Linked DNA regions of Homo sapiens: region 2 is reported to be linked to region 1. Evidence: microRNA targets listed by miRTarBase, many of them from high-throughput screens and not tested one by one. Region 1 holds a microRNA gene; the other region holds the end of a gene's coding sequence.

Evidence for each region. Region 1 holds the annotated microRNA hsa-miR-1273h-5p (CUGGGAGGUCAAGGCUGCAGU, at 4,774-4,794, shown strand). A microRNA usually pairs through its seed, bases 2 to 8, with sites in the 3' UTR of a target mRNA and lowers its output. Matches are read on the target gene's strand: a 7mer-m8 pairs with bases 2 to 8, a 7mer-A1 pairs with bases 2 to 7 and ends in A, and an 8mer does both.
Region 2: the mRNA of TTLL9 is a reported target of hsa-miR-1273h-5p. Seed matches in the 3' UTR shown: 8mer at 866-873 and 7mer-m8 at 1,872-1,878.

Annotation. Positions count from the first base shown.
Region 1 is chr16:24,198,375-24,206,436 of GRCh38, forward strand. MIR1273H (microRNA 1273h) reads left to right here and starts at 4,742; the gene lies at 4,742-4,857. The region is part of intron 16 of PRKCB (protein kinase C beta); the gene reads left to right.
Region 2 is chr20:31,942,575-31,949,574 of GRCh38, forward strand. TTLL9 (tubulin tyrosine ligase like 9) reads left to right here. Exons shown (of 15, transcript NM_001008409.5): 15 at 371-2,426. The coding sequence ends at 447. PDRG1 (p53 and DNA damage regulated 1) reads right to left here. Exons shown (of 5, transcript NM_030815.3): 3 at 6,234-6,308; 4 at 3,922-4,002; 5 at 1,763-3,315. The coding sequence ends at 3,233. Among named protein-coding and RNA genes, the nearest start is that of PDRG1, 6.0 kb to the right of the region's middle.

The sequences.
Region 1 (8,062 bases):
GGGGGATGAGCCCAGGGTACAAGGATTCAGCCGCCTCAGAAGACAACCCAGGTAGCAGCATAGAAGCAGTGAGGTGAAGAGGAAGAGAAAGCTAAGTAGGCTTCATTAGAGTCCTTGGAGTCTTTTCTGCTTTTTATTTATTTGTTTTTTCATTGTTTTTAATTAATTGCCCAGGCTGGTGTCAAAATCCTGGCCTCAAGTGATCCTCCCACCTCTGCCTCTGAAAGTGCTGGGGGTTACAGGCGTGAGCCACTGTGCCTGGCACCTGTGGAGTCTTAAGCGCTAAAGTGTGTGTACAATGATCTGCCCAGTAGTAAACATGGCTCTAGTATTCTTTTAAAATATTATCAATCAGATCATCAATTGTTCTAAAATATGGTCAACCAGATTGTCAAGTGTTCTAAAATATGATGCATCTGATCGTCAATGCTCTCTGGGCAGGGCTTGAGGAGTACAACCTGATGAGAAGCAGACGTTAAGATCCCCTTTCCTCCACTCCTGACATTGGAGCAACCATCCAGTCCTGTCTAGACATCACTACAATGCTCATTCCCTCCTTCCTTCCATTCTAGCCTGTGTCAGGCCTCACTAACTCCAAACCCACTTGTATGACAGACTGATTCCAATCATTTCTGCTCTTGTTACCGATTCTTATCTGCACTTTACTTAAAGCCCCATAATTTTGAGGCATCTGGACAGTAGGAAAGGCTGAAAACCTGGCAAGCTTTTATAGCTTGCAAAGGTCCTTGTCCTATGCTCTGTTAGTATCATTTCCAAAATACTACTTGGGCTATCTGATCACATCCCATTGCCCGTATCCTCTGAGAGTCTAAATGCTGAACTGCTTCAGAAACTAAATCATACTCACAGGACTTGGTTTCTCAGCAATTTTATCATCTGAAAACATTGTTTATGTAGCTGAGGTCAAAAGCTTCAAGTACTGCTTTAATGAGCTGCGAATCTGTTCATGTGACATTCTCTTCCAAACCCAATTGCCCTTTACACTGTATGAGTAAGTGCCTCTGTGTGTGTGTGTCTGAATGTGTGTGTTTGATGTGCTGACATTTCTGAATTGAATCCAGAAAGTGTAACCTTTGTATGTTTGCTGTTAAAACTCCAAATTCAAGCCTTAAGAAAAGGATCTAACACTTACTCAATGTGATTTATTTAAGCACAGAACCTAACTCCCCCAAAGTATCAAATACTCAAGAGAACAATTCATTTTTGAAAATTGTGATTTAAAATAATTCTCATAAAACCTTTACTGTTCAAATATATTAGAAAATATATTGCATTTTTGTCTGCATCAGGCACTGTTTTAACTGCCTTCCATGAATTGCCTCATTTAATTCTCTCAACCCTGTAAGGTAGGGTTATCACCACAGTATAGATGAGGAACTAGAGCTTGGAAAAGTTAAGGCATTTGCCCAAGGTCCAGCAACTAGAAAGCAGAGGAGCCAGGACTTGATCCCTGGACTGTACACTGCACAAGACCCTTGTAAAGATTATTAGAAGCACTTGGAGCCCCTGGTAAGGTTTGTGATTGTGCTACCAGGAGAGTCATGATAACACCATCGAATGGTGTCTGTTACATAATAGAAAAAGACTGAGTATTCTTACAATTCAAATGATTTAAATTTATTTTAAAATATTGCAACAAATAAGTAGCATCTTCACAGCTTTTATAATTCGTTGTCAGGATTTTAAAAGATGCAAATCTTATTTGTTCCTTAGGGCTTTGATTTTGAGGCTGACAAAGACGGCATGCATTGACTAACCTCTGAAAGAAGGGCATGGCAGCATTGAAATGAGGCAGCCGAGACAGGCTCATTAAGGAGTAGAGGTTTCCCTGCTCATTTCTGGTTGTTCTTTTGGGGTATCCACTGTGTGGAGTTTGCAGAGATCTTAATAAAAATATCAACCTACATTTATATACTGACAAACAAATAGCCAAGAGCCATTTAGGACACACAGCTTGGAGTCTGTTTATCTCTCTCCACCTATCTACACACCCATGGAGAACCCATTTAAACTTCAGATCAAACCAGGCTCCCTTTAGATGGTTGGAATTGTCAGGTTCCTGAGCCAGGTGAAGTTCCTAAATCAGTTTCTGTCTTAGTCCATGTTGTGTTGCTATGACTGAATACCACAGACTAGATAATTTATAAAGAAAAGAAATTTATTTCTTACAGTTCTGGAGGCTGGGAAGTCCAAGGGTGAGGGGCTTGCATCTGGTGAGAGACTTCTTGCTGTGTCATCCCATGGCAGAAGGTGAAGGGCAAGAGAGAGTATGCGTGCATGTGTGTGCATATATATGCATATGCATACATGTGTGTGCACATGCAGGGGAAAGATACGGAGCCAAACTCATCCCTTTTATTAGGATCCCACTACCAAGATAATGTTGTTAAGTTCTCATGAGGTGCCACCTCTCAACACTGTTGCATTGGAGATTCAGTTTCTAACACATGAACTTTGGCGGGGCAAGTCAACCATAGAACCTACCAGATACATGACTTTGAGTCATGTACTATTATATTATTATTTATTATTATTATTGTTATTTTGATACTGGTCCATGGCCCAGGGATTGGGGATCCCTGCCCTAAATCGTGAGGAAGATTGAGGCCCATGGGTGCCACTGGTTGGTAGCCGTCAGCTTCTTACCACCTACCGGCACCTCCATAGTCATCTTGACCTCCTTGCCCAGCTTCCATCTCTGTCTTAGCAAATATGTTTTCCCTCCCCCAACTCATGTGAGACTTACCCTCACTCCTGCTCTGGACTCCAGCCTCTTGATCCTTCATGCTTATCTCCCCTGTTTAGTCTGTCTACAGCTTCTCTCTGTATCAACAAAACTCCTATGGTTTCAAATAGGAATCTGATTTAAACTGACTTTTAAGCAAAAAATAATGATAGTTAGTATTCAGATGTAGATGGATCATCTACATCTGGTCCCAAACAATGCCAGCAGGGAAACATTTATCTATATCCCTTAGGATTACTTTCCCCACTGTGTTGACTTCATTCTTCATTCTCAGAAGGCTTTCTTGGGCACATAGCAACTCCCAATTTATGTCCCATTATCTCTGCAACTTCTACCAAAGAAAAGGGCTTCCTTTTTATAAAATCCCAGCAGCCTAGGACTCAATCTTTTTGGAAGATTATTGGGTCATATGCCCATCTCTAAGGGAATTGCTCACTGCACCAGGGGGATGGAATGTGCTGATTGACCGGGCCTGGGTCACCAGCCCCTCTTAGCCAGAGAGCTGGATCTAATCCAGACATTTTGAAAAAAGAGAAGGAATGTCCTATCTAAATCAGACATTTTGAAAGAAGAGAAGGAATATCTCCTTTAAGAAAAAAAAGCCACTGTCATGGCCGGGTGTGGTGGCTCACGCCTATAATCCCAGCACTTTGGGAGGCTGAGGCGGGTGGATCATGAGGTCAGGAGATCGAGACCATCTTGGCTAACACGGTGAAACCCCATCTCCACTAAAAAATACAAAAAATTAGCTGGGCGCGGTGGCGGGCACCTGTAGTCCCAGCTACTCGGGAGGCTGAGGCAGGAGAATGGCGTGAACCCAGGAGGCGGAGCTTGCAGTGAGCTGAGATAGCGCCACTGCAGTCCAGCCTGGGCAAAAGAGCGAGACTCCGTCTCAAAAAAAAAAAAAAAGAAAAAAAGAAAAATAAAGCCACTGTCACTAGAAGAAAAGACAATGCCTGCTGGCTGGGCAAAAACAGCAGCTGTCCTTTCTGACTCTATCCTGGCCTTCTCCTTTGTGCATAAACCTGCTATGTCTTTTTCATGTTAAAAATCCCCTACCTCAAACCTGGGAATCCTCCTTACTACTACTCTTACTACTGCTATGATTACTACCCTACCTTACTTTGCATACAAACACACTTTTGAAAGAGTTGCCAGTTCCTGCTATTTCCACTTGATGACAATTTATTGTTTCCTCAGTTTGGTGCAATCTGGCTTCTGCTCCCGCCATCCTATTGATATTTTTCTCATTGAGTCATCAATGACCTGAAAACTGCCTCTTCTCATAAGCTTGTCTCATCTTTCTTGACCTCACCATATTATTAGGTGCTCTAATCCTTTCTCCTTTAAAAAAATGTGAAAAAATAAAATATTCAAGCAGCATCAGAAGCTACAAAGTGAAATTAAGATTCCCCTCACCCATGGCTCCTAGCTAGGCTTCCTGGTTCTCCTTCCCAGAGACACCCATTGCAACCAGGTTCTTGTGTGACCTTCTAGAGAAGATGTGTTCAGGCCCAGAAATAGTCTACATCACACACAAGGATGTTAGCATGCTGTGTACAATTTCTGTATCTTGCATTATTCCCCTCTGTCTTGGAGATTGTTTCTTATCTGCTTATCTAACTCTACATCACCCTTTGAATAACTTCCTAGTTTCCTATATAAGTGAGTTTATCTGTAGGAAAAGTTCAGAGTGCCTTCTTTCTTTTTAAGCCCCTCTTCTCCTTCATTTTTATGACATTGTGTGTCTGTCTTAGTCTGTTTTGTGCTGCTATAAGAATACCTGAAACTGGGGCCTGGTGCAGTGGCTCATGCCTGTAATTCCAGCACTTTGGGAGGTTAACATGGGCAGATCACTTGAGCTTGAGCCCAGGAGTTTGAGACCAGCTTGGGGAACATGGCAAAATCTGTCTTTACACACACAAAAATTACAAAAATCAACCAGGTGGGGTGGCACATGCCTGTAGTCCCAGCTACTTGGGTGACTAAGGCAGGATTGCTTGAGCCTGGGAGGTCAAGGCTGCAGTGTCGTGGTCACAGCTTGCTGCAGACTCGACCTCCCAGGCTTAAGCAATCCTCCTGCTCGAGTGACAGAGTGAGACCCTGTCTCAAAAAAAAAAAAGTGGATAACTTACAATGAAAAGAAATTTATTTGGCTCATGGTTCTGGAGGGTGGGAAGTACAAGATCAGGGGCTGTATCTGGGGAGGACCTTCTTGCTGCATAGTAACCTGATAGAAGGCATCACATGGCAAGAGAACACATGAGGGAGGGTAACTTACTTTTTAAATAAATTCACTCCCACAATAATAACATCAATCCAGTCACCTCCAAAAGTTCCCACCTCTCAACACTGTTGCATTGGGGATTAAGTGTCCAGCACAAGAACTTTGGGAGAACACATTCAAACCATATCACCACATTTGCTGATGTTCTTCCTACCTTCACAGCCACTCCCAATAGAAATTCCAACTCCACAAAGACTTCCAGTGACAGTTGAATTTGGAGGGTTGAGACCAGCTCATGACCCAGAAAGGAAAACAGAAAGCTTACTTTTTGTTTTGTTACAAGTGCAGTCTCTTAAAAATAACCACAAAATGCCCCCCCAAATGGCATATGGAAAACAGCACAGAGATGGTGTGTTAATCTACCTGAAATGTCTTTCTAAGGAAGTGAGGCTTGGATGGGAACGGAAATGCATCCCTTTTTCTTCCCAGGGTACACGTCTTTTTCTCACTTCCTCTAACTGGGAGCCCCAGGGCCTGGCTTTGTCTTGTAGCTTCCTGCCGTGATGCACCAGGCTAAGTGGGAAGGTTTCTGTTCTATGTCTAAAGTAGCACTGGCAGGTCCTCATTCTGCTTGTAATTGGGATGGGAATATGGGTAGGAATTTAGGGTTTGGCAGAGCGTACAGGACCTCTTTCAAGCCAGAGCACAGCCCTGTCAGACTTACTCACTGGACATGAATGGGTCAGTCAGCCCTCAGCAGTAACCACCAGCTACCATGTTAAGTATTTGATGTGAATTTTATCAAGTCATTCTCGCCACACCCTACAAGAAACTTGAGCTTAGGGGACTTAGCTAACTTGCTTGAAGGTTGTATAGCTGGGAATTGTTGGAGCCAGGATTGGTACCCAGGTTAGCTTAACTTTTAAGTCCGTGCCACACAATCAGATACATAGTATGAGGCAATGGGATGTAATGGAAAGCCCATGGGCTTTGGAATTGAACAGATGGGCTCTGGATCTTGGCTCTCCTACTTGACCCTATATGACCCTGAACAAACTGTTAACTCTTAAAATTATCTGTTAAGTAGAGATAATCCTTTTCCTGCCTATCTCACAGCCTTGTGGGAATCAAAGCTATAAAAAGATAGGCAAATAGAAGGGATAATTACTATTTGAGGGTGAGTTTACTTGAAGCCAACAATGTGGGTTTAGGATGAATGGTGAAGAATAGATAAGAAAAAAAATGATATTCTGTTGACATGGGAAGATGTTTAGAGTGTATTTCATCTAGTTTCTTTTAAAAAGCAAGCAAAAGAACAGAGTCATGATTCCACCTTTGTCTAAAAACTAAAAAACATCCATTCATCTATTCATCCAGCCATCTAGGATACAAACCAAGATGTTAACATAATACAGAGATTTGGGGTGGCGGGATTAAGAAGGATTCTTTTGTGTGTTTTAAAATTTTTTATGGCCAGGCACAGAGGCTCATGCCTGTAATCCTAGCACTTTGGGAGGCCAAGGCGTGCAGATCACGAGGTCAGGAGTTCGAGACCAGCCTAGCCAACATAGTGAAACCCCGTCTCTACTAAAAATACAAAAATTAGCTGGGCATGGTGATGGGTGCCTGTAGTCCCAGCTACTTGGGAGGCTGAGGCAGGAGAATCGCTTGAACCCGGGAGGTGGAGGTTGCAGTGAGCCGAGATCGTGCCACTGCACACCAGCCTGGGCGACAAAGTGAGACTTCATCTCAAAAAAAAAATTATTATTATAATTCCTTTTTTTTTTTTTTTTTTTTTTAGAGACAGGGTCTTACTCTGTTACCCAGGCTGAAGTGAAGTGGAACAGTCATAGCTCACTGCAGCCTCCAGTTCCTGGGCTCAAGGGATTCCCCGTGCCTCAGCCTCTTGAACAGCTGGGACCACAGGCATGCACCACCATGCCTGGCCAATTTTTAAAAAATTCTTTGTAGAGACAGGTTCTCTCTATGTTGCCCAGGCTGGTCTCAAACTCCTGATCTCAAGTGATCCTTCCACCTGGGCCTCCCAAAGTGCTGGTATTATAGGCATGGCACCACCATGCCTGGCATCTTGGTGCTTTTTAATAGCTTGTTTGTTTCTGCGATAAATGTAGGAGACTGATAGAAGAGTCTGGATCTCTTGTCAAATCTAGGATCAAATCGTGGTCAGATACTTAAACTAAACCCATTTTCTCATTGCACAGCAAGGACTTCATAGAGCTTTTGGGGGGATTAAAGGAGGTAAAGCTTGCAAAACACTTAACACAGTATCTGGCTCATAGTTAGTGCTTAACATACACTATTATTTGTCCATTTGATTTTTTTTCATCCCTGGGTTCTAGAAACGCAGTGGTGAATAAAACAGATGTGATTTTGCTCTCATGTGGCTTACAGTCTAGATGAGAACATAGACAATCAACAGAGAATGAACATGTATTAATAATTATAGACTGAGATATACCAGATTTTATTTCTGTTAAAGAAATGAACAGGATATCTTGACAGAGAATAACAGGAGGGAAGAATGAGAATCCTCTTTATTTGAAGGTGGTCTGGAACAGCTTCTCTGACAGGGTGCCATTTAAACTGAGATCTGGAGGAAATCAAAACACTGGATGTTATTTTTTAATGAAAATTAAGAAAAGCAAGAGCAAAACAAAACAGACTTAGTATCAAACACAAAAGACCCCTCTCCTACTGACTTCCTCCCTAAATAAACATAAGAGATAAAAGATCCCTGATTGTAAGGGACCTTCATTATTAGCAGAAAAAGGAGACTTAAATCTCTCTTTTTTTCTGCCAAAACCCAGACCACAAATGACTTTTTAAAATGATCAAATATGTATGCAGCTTTGAGCATCTGATTCTCCCTGGAGTGGGTCCCTCCTGTATTCGGCTGTGGGAAACTGGAAGGCATAGGAACGACCCTGCATTTCACTGGATGTGCACATGTGAAAAAGAAAGATGCGCTTGTCTTTTTGCCTAGGCTATGTAGCTTGGATGTCTTTTCATCGTGACCTTCTGGTCTTGTTAACCTGAAGGTGTCCTGG
Region 2 (7,000 bases), not on the chromosome of region 1:
GTTCAAATGATTTAACCTCTCTGAGCCTGTTTTCCCTTCTACACATCATTCCTGCGAGGGCCAAACAAATCCATCCACATTCAGCATCTGGAGCAGTTCCTGGCTTGAGGTAAGCCCCCAGTCCTCATGTTCACTCCATAAGGTGGGCAGTAGTATCCTGGTTTACAGATGAGAAGACCGATGCTGAAAAGGGTAACTGACCTGCTTGAGGGCCATGGCAGTTTAGGAATGGAGCCAGGATATAAACCACAGGCTGTGTGTGGTTGTCTGACTCCCGCTGTCCCCTCTTCCCAGCAGGGAGTTGGGGCACAGGCCCCTCCACTCCTCCCAAGCATAGGTCATCCCAGCCAACACCCCACTTCCTTTCCAGGCTGCGTCAACGATCGGAAGAAACAACTGAGGCAGCTCTTCTGCTCCCTTCAAGTTCAGAAGAAAGCTTCCAGTTGATCCCCAGCTGCCAGGAGGAAATCAGCCTTAGCAGGTGCCACCCAGGCCTCCCCCCCACTCCCAGATCCCAGCACAGCACCTCACAGCATTCGCCTCCCCACCTCCAGCCTGGCACCAGCTTTGCTGGCTTAGCAGCTGCAGCTTACTACCTGAATTGGGCCCCTTGGATACCTCCAGCCCATCCCCAGGCATCTTTGCACCAGGAGACAGCCAATCACTGGGACTGGGGGAGGTTTAACCTTGACAAACTGACTTGGCAGTTAGGCCCAAAGAGAACAAATACAGCAAGTTCTGCTACCCCCAGGAGATCATATCTAATAAATGAGCACAGGCCCTACTTGGAGTCACTGGGCACCAGGCCTGGTTCCGGGGATACTGTTGGCTGCAGCCAAGTCCTCCTGGCTTTGACACTTGGATACCTCCCAAGTCAGTGCTGAAAAGGTCCTTCAGGAGCAAGAGTTTGGAGGCTAAGGAACTCGTCTTTAAGCTGTGCTTACACAGCAAGCAGTTATTAGATTGTGTGTTTATTGGGGGCCTGGGGAAGTACTGAGCCCTAAACACATCCTCTTCTCCTTGCATGTCAGGGGAGCCCATGGGGCTCCCTGACCATCATCTGAAAACCAGTGGGACAGGGCATCCCCATTTCTCAGATGGACAAGACAGACCAGGGAGGCAGAGCTTAGTGAGGGTCTCTGCAAAGGTGCATTTATCTAAGTCAGATGGGTGACTTAAGTGCTTCTCTAGGCCTTGTGTTTGAGATTGGGAGCTGAGCCAGAAACCGGAAAACCCTGGGCTCATGGGCAGGACAGCTTCGGGAGTTGAGTGTGAGTAAAAATCTGCCTTTTCACATCTTACATTGCTAAGCTTCCTCTTGGTTTAAGAGGGGTTGCAACAAGACTCGGGGCTGTTGGGGTAACTGTTCCAGGGGGGACTTACTCCCTCTACCACTCCGCCTGCTTCAGAGTAGTTTCTCTGGCTGCAAATGGTTGAATCTGCCTGCCTAGGTCAAGCCCGAAGGGAAGACTTTTGGAAGGAAAATACTGGCAAATCCAAGAAGTGAACCAGCCGACTTTAGGAAAGCCAGAAGCCAGGCTACTCTAGACCTTCTGCCTTCAGAGCATGAGGACTTCTCCCACTCATCCCTGTACCTGAGGCACACCAACCCAGACAGGTCCAGGCATGGACTCCAGGTTCCCTATTTCCAGAAGGAATGCGATTAGCTTTTTTTGGCCCAGCACCCACCCTGCCAGGGAGGAAGGGGCAATTTTCCAGTGATGAAATTGTGAATCAGGCAGTCACACTGGACAACATCTAGCAAGGTGAATTCTGCAACTCCCTACTTTATTTACATTTTAAAATAAGCAATATATTCATACGGTTTAAAATCCAAAGTTTACAAAAGGGTATAGGGTGACATCTCCTTCCCTCCCACCTGTGCGCCCCAACCCTGCAGGTGCTGTTCTGAGGGAATCACACTGTGCTTGCACAAAAATTATTAGCTTATAAGACACCAGCCTTCCCCTTGCTTTCCTCACTTGATGTATCTTGGAGCTTGTTCCTTATTCTTGATTATAGTTGTATGGTATTGCACTATCTGGAGCTAACACCTGTGACCCACACTCATGTTTTAAAAGTTTCTGCATTAGTCAAAAATATTTAAAAGGAGATTCAACTTCACAACCCATATGTCTAGCTTCTCTTGAAAACACGTAAGAACTGGCCATGACAGCCTGTGTTTCTATGTAACTATGAGCCAGAGCCAAGGAGCGGGGGGACCAGGAGAGGTGTGCCCCTGCCATGCTGCCATTTGTTATCACCCGCCTGTCAAATCACAGGTTTATTTCAAGGCAAGAACCATGTTCATAGGTTGTATTCTAAATGGAGTGGCGTGCCCTTACTGAAGGACTAGATGAGGCAAATAAAGACTAGTTGCTGCTATTCATTCATTCAGCTAACATTTATTGAGCCCTTAATGAACACATAAGAGTTTTGACTTCACGGCAGTTCATACTGGGACCTCAGACCACTGAAGGCAGACAGTAACGAGCAGTGCTGGCCGGGCCCCACTTTCAGAGGGGGCGGAAGGGCATCTTGACACGTGTCATATGGTAAGAGGCGCATCCACTCACCCAGGCCTGGTGCAGGACTCTGCAAGGCCCTCCTGAGTAAAGAGTGGCCACGAAGGGCTGCTAGGCAGCACCTACTCTTGGAATCAAGCAGGGAAAAAGTGCAAAATTGGAGCTGGCGGGAGGTGTGTGTGCCTGCCCCACAGATGGCTGTGGTGAGCCACAAAGCACCAAGATTCTGTTCTTCATTCAGCAACCACCCATGAGCCTCCTGCTTTATTCCAATCGCATGGCACCAGCCTGAAAACCTCTCTCCCTTCTGAGAGGAATGCTGGAATGACACTCCACTCTGCCCCTCCCTCCCTCCTTCCTTGCTCAGGGTCCATGTGAACAGCAGGCCATTGTTGGGAAGTGCCTGTTGCAGTCATTCTTACACCCCCACAGCCACTGCCCCACACACCCACTGGTGGCTACCAAGGCCCGTCAATAGATCTTGTGTCCACCGAGCCCTGGTGTCCAGGTCCAGCAGCCAGACAGGCTGAAGGTTCCCTCCTGCCATCACAGAGTAGCCAAGCACTACAAAGAGGTTTTCATGGCCAGATTCCTGACGGCTGGCCCCTTACAGGGCAGATCCTGTCCTTACAGGTGTCAAGGTTGGAGGGTCCTGGGTCCTCCATGACCCTGGGGGGTTGCTGGTCCCCCATCTTGGTTCTTGAGTCTCATCCTTTCAAGATGACCTTGAGAGCTTTAAGCTCATCCTGGTTGAGGGGGTTCAAGTTAAAACCCTTCAGCTCCGGTTTGCCTAGGAGAGAAGATGATCCATCAGCACGTCGGGCCTCCTGCTGGCTCTGGAGCCAGGCCCAGGAAAGGGGCTGACGCTGCACTAATGCTGCCAAACTCAGCCTGGAGGTCTGGCAGGGATGGGCCTCCAATTCTGCAATGCACCAGATGAGGCATCACCACTGCTCCTGTGTCACCAAGAGCCTGCAAACGCGTAACTCTGCTGCCCAAAGAACCTCAGGTTTTTCCAAGACCTGTGACCAATCTAGAGTGCTTGCATTTATCAAGAATTTCAGCTCTGACCTCACTCACTCACTGAAGCCTTCTGAGTTTCCTCAGTCAGAGCTATCTGATCCCCATGCCATGCCCCGATGTATAACGTGAGATCACCCCAAGCGGTTCCTGGGACCTGGAAAAGAAACTATGACAGGACTAGGACTGTAGAAGTCCCCCTGTCCATTCTGTCCCTGGGCAGCTACAACCAACCACTGTGCACACCTCCAGGGCCACTCACAGGCTGCCCCGGACACTGCCCATCTCTGAGGGTCGGACTTCCCATCCCTGCCCTTCAAAGTCCATGCTGATGATTCCCTCCCCTTCTTATCTCCAGTCCCTGCTAAGCCAATACCTTGGGCCTCAAAAAGGCGGTTGACCTTCACTTTAAGTTGCTTCCGCAGTTTTTCTATTTCTTTATCCAGATGATCTTGATCTGAAAAAATGAGGGGGGCAAGCAGAGGATAAGATTGTACCAGACAGACTTGATCCCAGTAGTGGAGAGGCCAGCCTCTCCCCAGCAAGGGCGTGTAGCTTTCAGGAAGGAAAAGGGGACATCAGAGGCCAACTGAGGAAGGATTAAAGTCTAGAAGGGACATGACCTGCTCAGGACCACTCAGAGAGCCCAGGACACAGCAGTCCCAACTCCCATTACACTGGCCTTTTCTGCATTATGCAAAGTACCTTGGGGTGGTCAGTGGATGGAGAAGGCAACATCAGGACTTTAGGCTGCCCTCCCACAATGAAATTATGGAAAATTCAAATGCACAAACAAAATAAGCATCTCTAGATTCAGCCCACCCTAGATGGCTGGAAAATGGATGCCTAAGAAATTTTACAAACCCAAGTCCATCAAGGTGAGGGGGTTTTAGAAAAACATGATTGTGTAAACATGTGACGTAAACAATCAACACGCAAGCAATGCTCAAGCTTAACTTAATTAGCCACTGTGAACAGAAAAGGGTCTTCTAGTGTCATGGACTGCCCCTGAGAAGAGTTGGTGTGATGACAGAGGTGGCTATCAAAGCTTGATTGACCAATTGACTGAAGTCACCCAGCCAATTCCACCTGCTCATGAGTGACATTCTGGCTAGCCTGTCTTCCCCACAGACTCACTCTTTCAGATGGGGGAGAAACCCTGAATGGCCAAGCCTTACAGCCTGGTTCTATTTCTCATTGTGAATGAGTAACCCCAATGTCCATGAGCTTGTTTAGCCTATGTTGATCCCCAAGAAATCTGATAATGTCTCAGAACCCCTCTAGGTACAGTGACAAGACGACATTTGGGGGCCAAAAGGGCCAACAAGATCCTGAACCCAGGCAAGGGACCCTCTGAAAGCTTAGCCTCCAGCCCACCACCAAGTGCAGTTTAATTTTATAACCATAATATTAGTGTATTTTTTCAACACAACAGCTGGAAACTTCTCCAGGCTGGATATAGCTTCCTGTTAGTAGTTTTATGTCACTGGCCAGGAGCAGTGGCTCACGCCTGTAATCCCAGCACTTTGGTGGGAGGCCAAGGTGGGTGGATCACCTGAGGTCACTTAGACCAGCCTGGCCAACATAGCAAAACCCTGTCTTTACTAAAAAAACACAAAAATTAGCCACGCATGATGGCATGCACCTATAATTCCAGCTAATCAGGAGGCTGAGGCAGGAGAATTGCTTGAACCTGGGAGGCAAAGGTTGCAGTGAGCCGAGATAGCACCATTGCACTCCAGCCTGGGTGACAGAGCAAGACTCTGTCTCAAGGAAAAAAAAAAAAGTTTTATTTCATGAGGTATGAAGACATCCTGTCTTCAGGGACTGAGGCAACCTTGCTTGTCCTTTTGGCCATTTTCAAGGTTATGGAAGAAAAAGTATGTGTAGCCTGTTCTTTTTCTAGCCAATAATCCATTTGCAGCCTGACTTGCTTTAAGATGCTTTTCCAAAGAGCTTCCAGATTATGGTTGTGGAAACTGAGTACACTGAGTGCCTAGGCTATGGCAGACCCTAGAGGTTTAATCTCCCCAAACCTCCATTTTCAACCCAGTCTCTATTGCAGGGCATGTAAAAAAGAAAAGCTCACTCTCCCAGGCTCTCTTGCAGCTATGGGTGACCATGTGACTTAGTTCTGGCCAATGAGATGTTGGCAGGAAGTCCCTGAGGAGATGGCCTTACTTCCAAAATAGAAGGCAAAGCTCTATGTGGCGAAAGCCTTCTGTCTTTCCTCCAGCCTGGCATGAGGACATGAGGCCTGCAACGATGAAACAACAACCAGGAGAATATGCTAAGGTGCCACTGCTGGGCATCTATGCCAGGACTGGAGTACACACCTCTGGACAATTTCTTATGCAAGAGTAAAAGAAGCATATTTCCTTAAGCCTCAATTTGTTGGGTTTTGTTATCTGCAGCCCAACTGATTCCTCACTAATAAGAAAGCACTATGCTAGGCACACATATTGTTTTACCTCAACTGCACAGCTATGCTACACAGATGCATCCCCCTCTTAGAGATGAGGAAATAACCCACAGTGGCAGAGGTGGAATTAAAACCCACAGCAGTCTGAACCCTGTGACAGAACTGCCTCTCCTTACGCTGCCTGAAGCCTGACTCCCTGTTCTGGGTTAAGACCAAAGCTGGTGGGAGAGGCAGCACACCCCTGACCCATCCCCAGGAGGCCTTACCTTTTTCAATCATTTCCTTTGTCTCAGGGTGAGGCATCTTGATAAACATGTTCCCGAAGCAAACCATCACATCTTCTGAAAGAGCAAATAGTAATTCCTTCAACAATTTTTTTTTGAGTACCTATTATCTGCCAGGCATTGTTTTAGATACAGACAACAGAGCAGAACAAGAAAAAGTTCCTGCCCTCTTGGAGCTTATGTTACAGTGGAGGAGAGAGAATAAAGATATGATTTGTCAGACCTTAAGAGTTGTAGAGAAAAATAAAGCAGGCTAAGATGGCTAGGGAATGCCAGAGGAGGACCTTGTTAATCATAGCAGGTAGTCTGAGAAGGCCTTACTGATTATATGCTATCTACACAGAGACCTAAGGAAAGTGAGAGTGTGAGCCCTGCAGACATCTGGGGAAAGAGTGAGCCAAACAGAGGAAACAACAGGAACAGCAAAGATCAGTAGTGTGCTTGGGGTGTTCAGAACAGCAAGGGGCCGGGCGCAGTGGCTCACGCCTGTAATCCCAGCACTTTGGGAGGCCGAGGCAGGTGGATCACTTGAGGCCAGGACCTCGAGACCGGCCTGGCCAACATGGCGAAACGCTGTATCTATTAAAAATACAAAAATTAGCTGGGTGTGGTGGCACACGCCTGTAATCTCAGCTACTCAGGAGGCTGAGGCACAAGAATCACTTGAACCTGGGAGACAGAGGTTGCAGTGAGCCAAGATCATGCCACTGCACTCCAGTCTGGGTGACAGAGCAAGGCTCTGTCTCCAA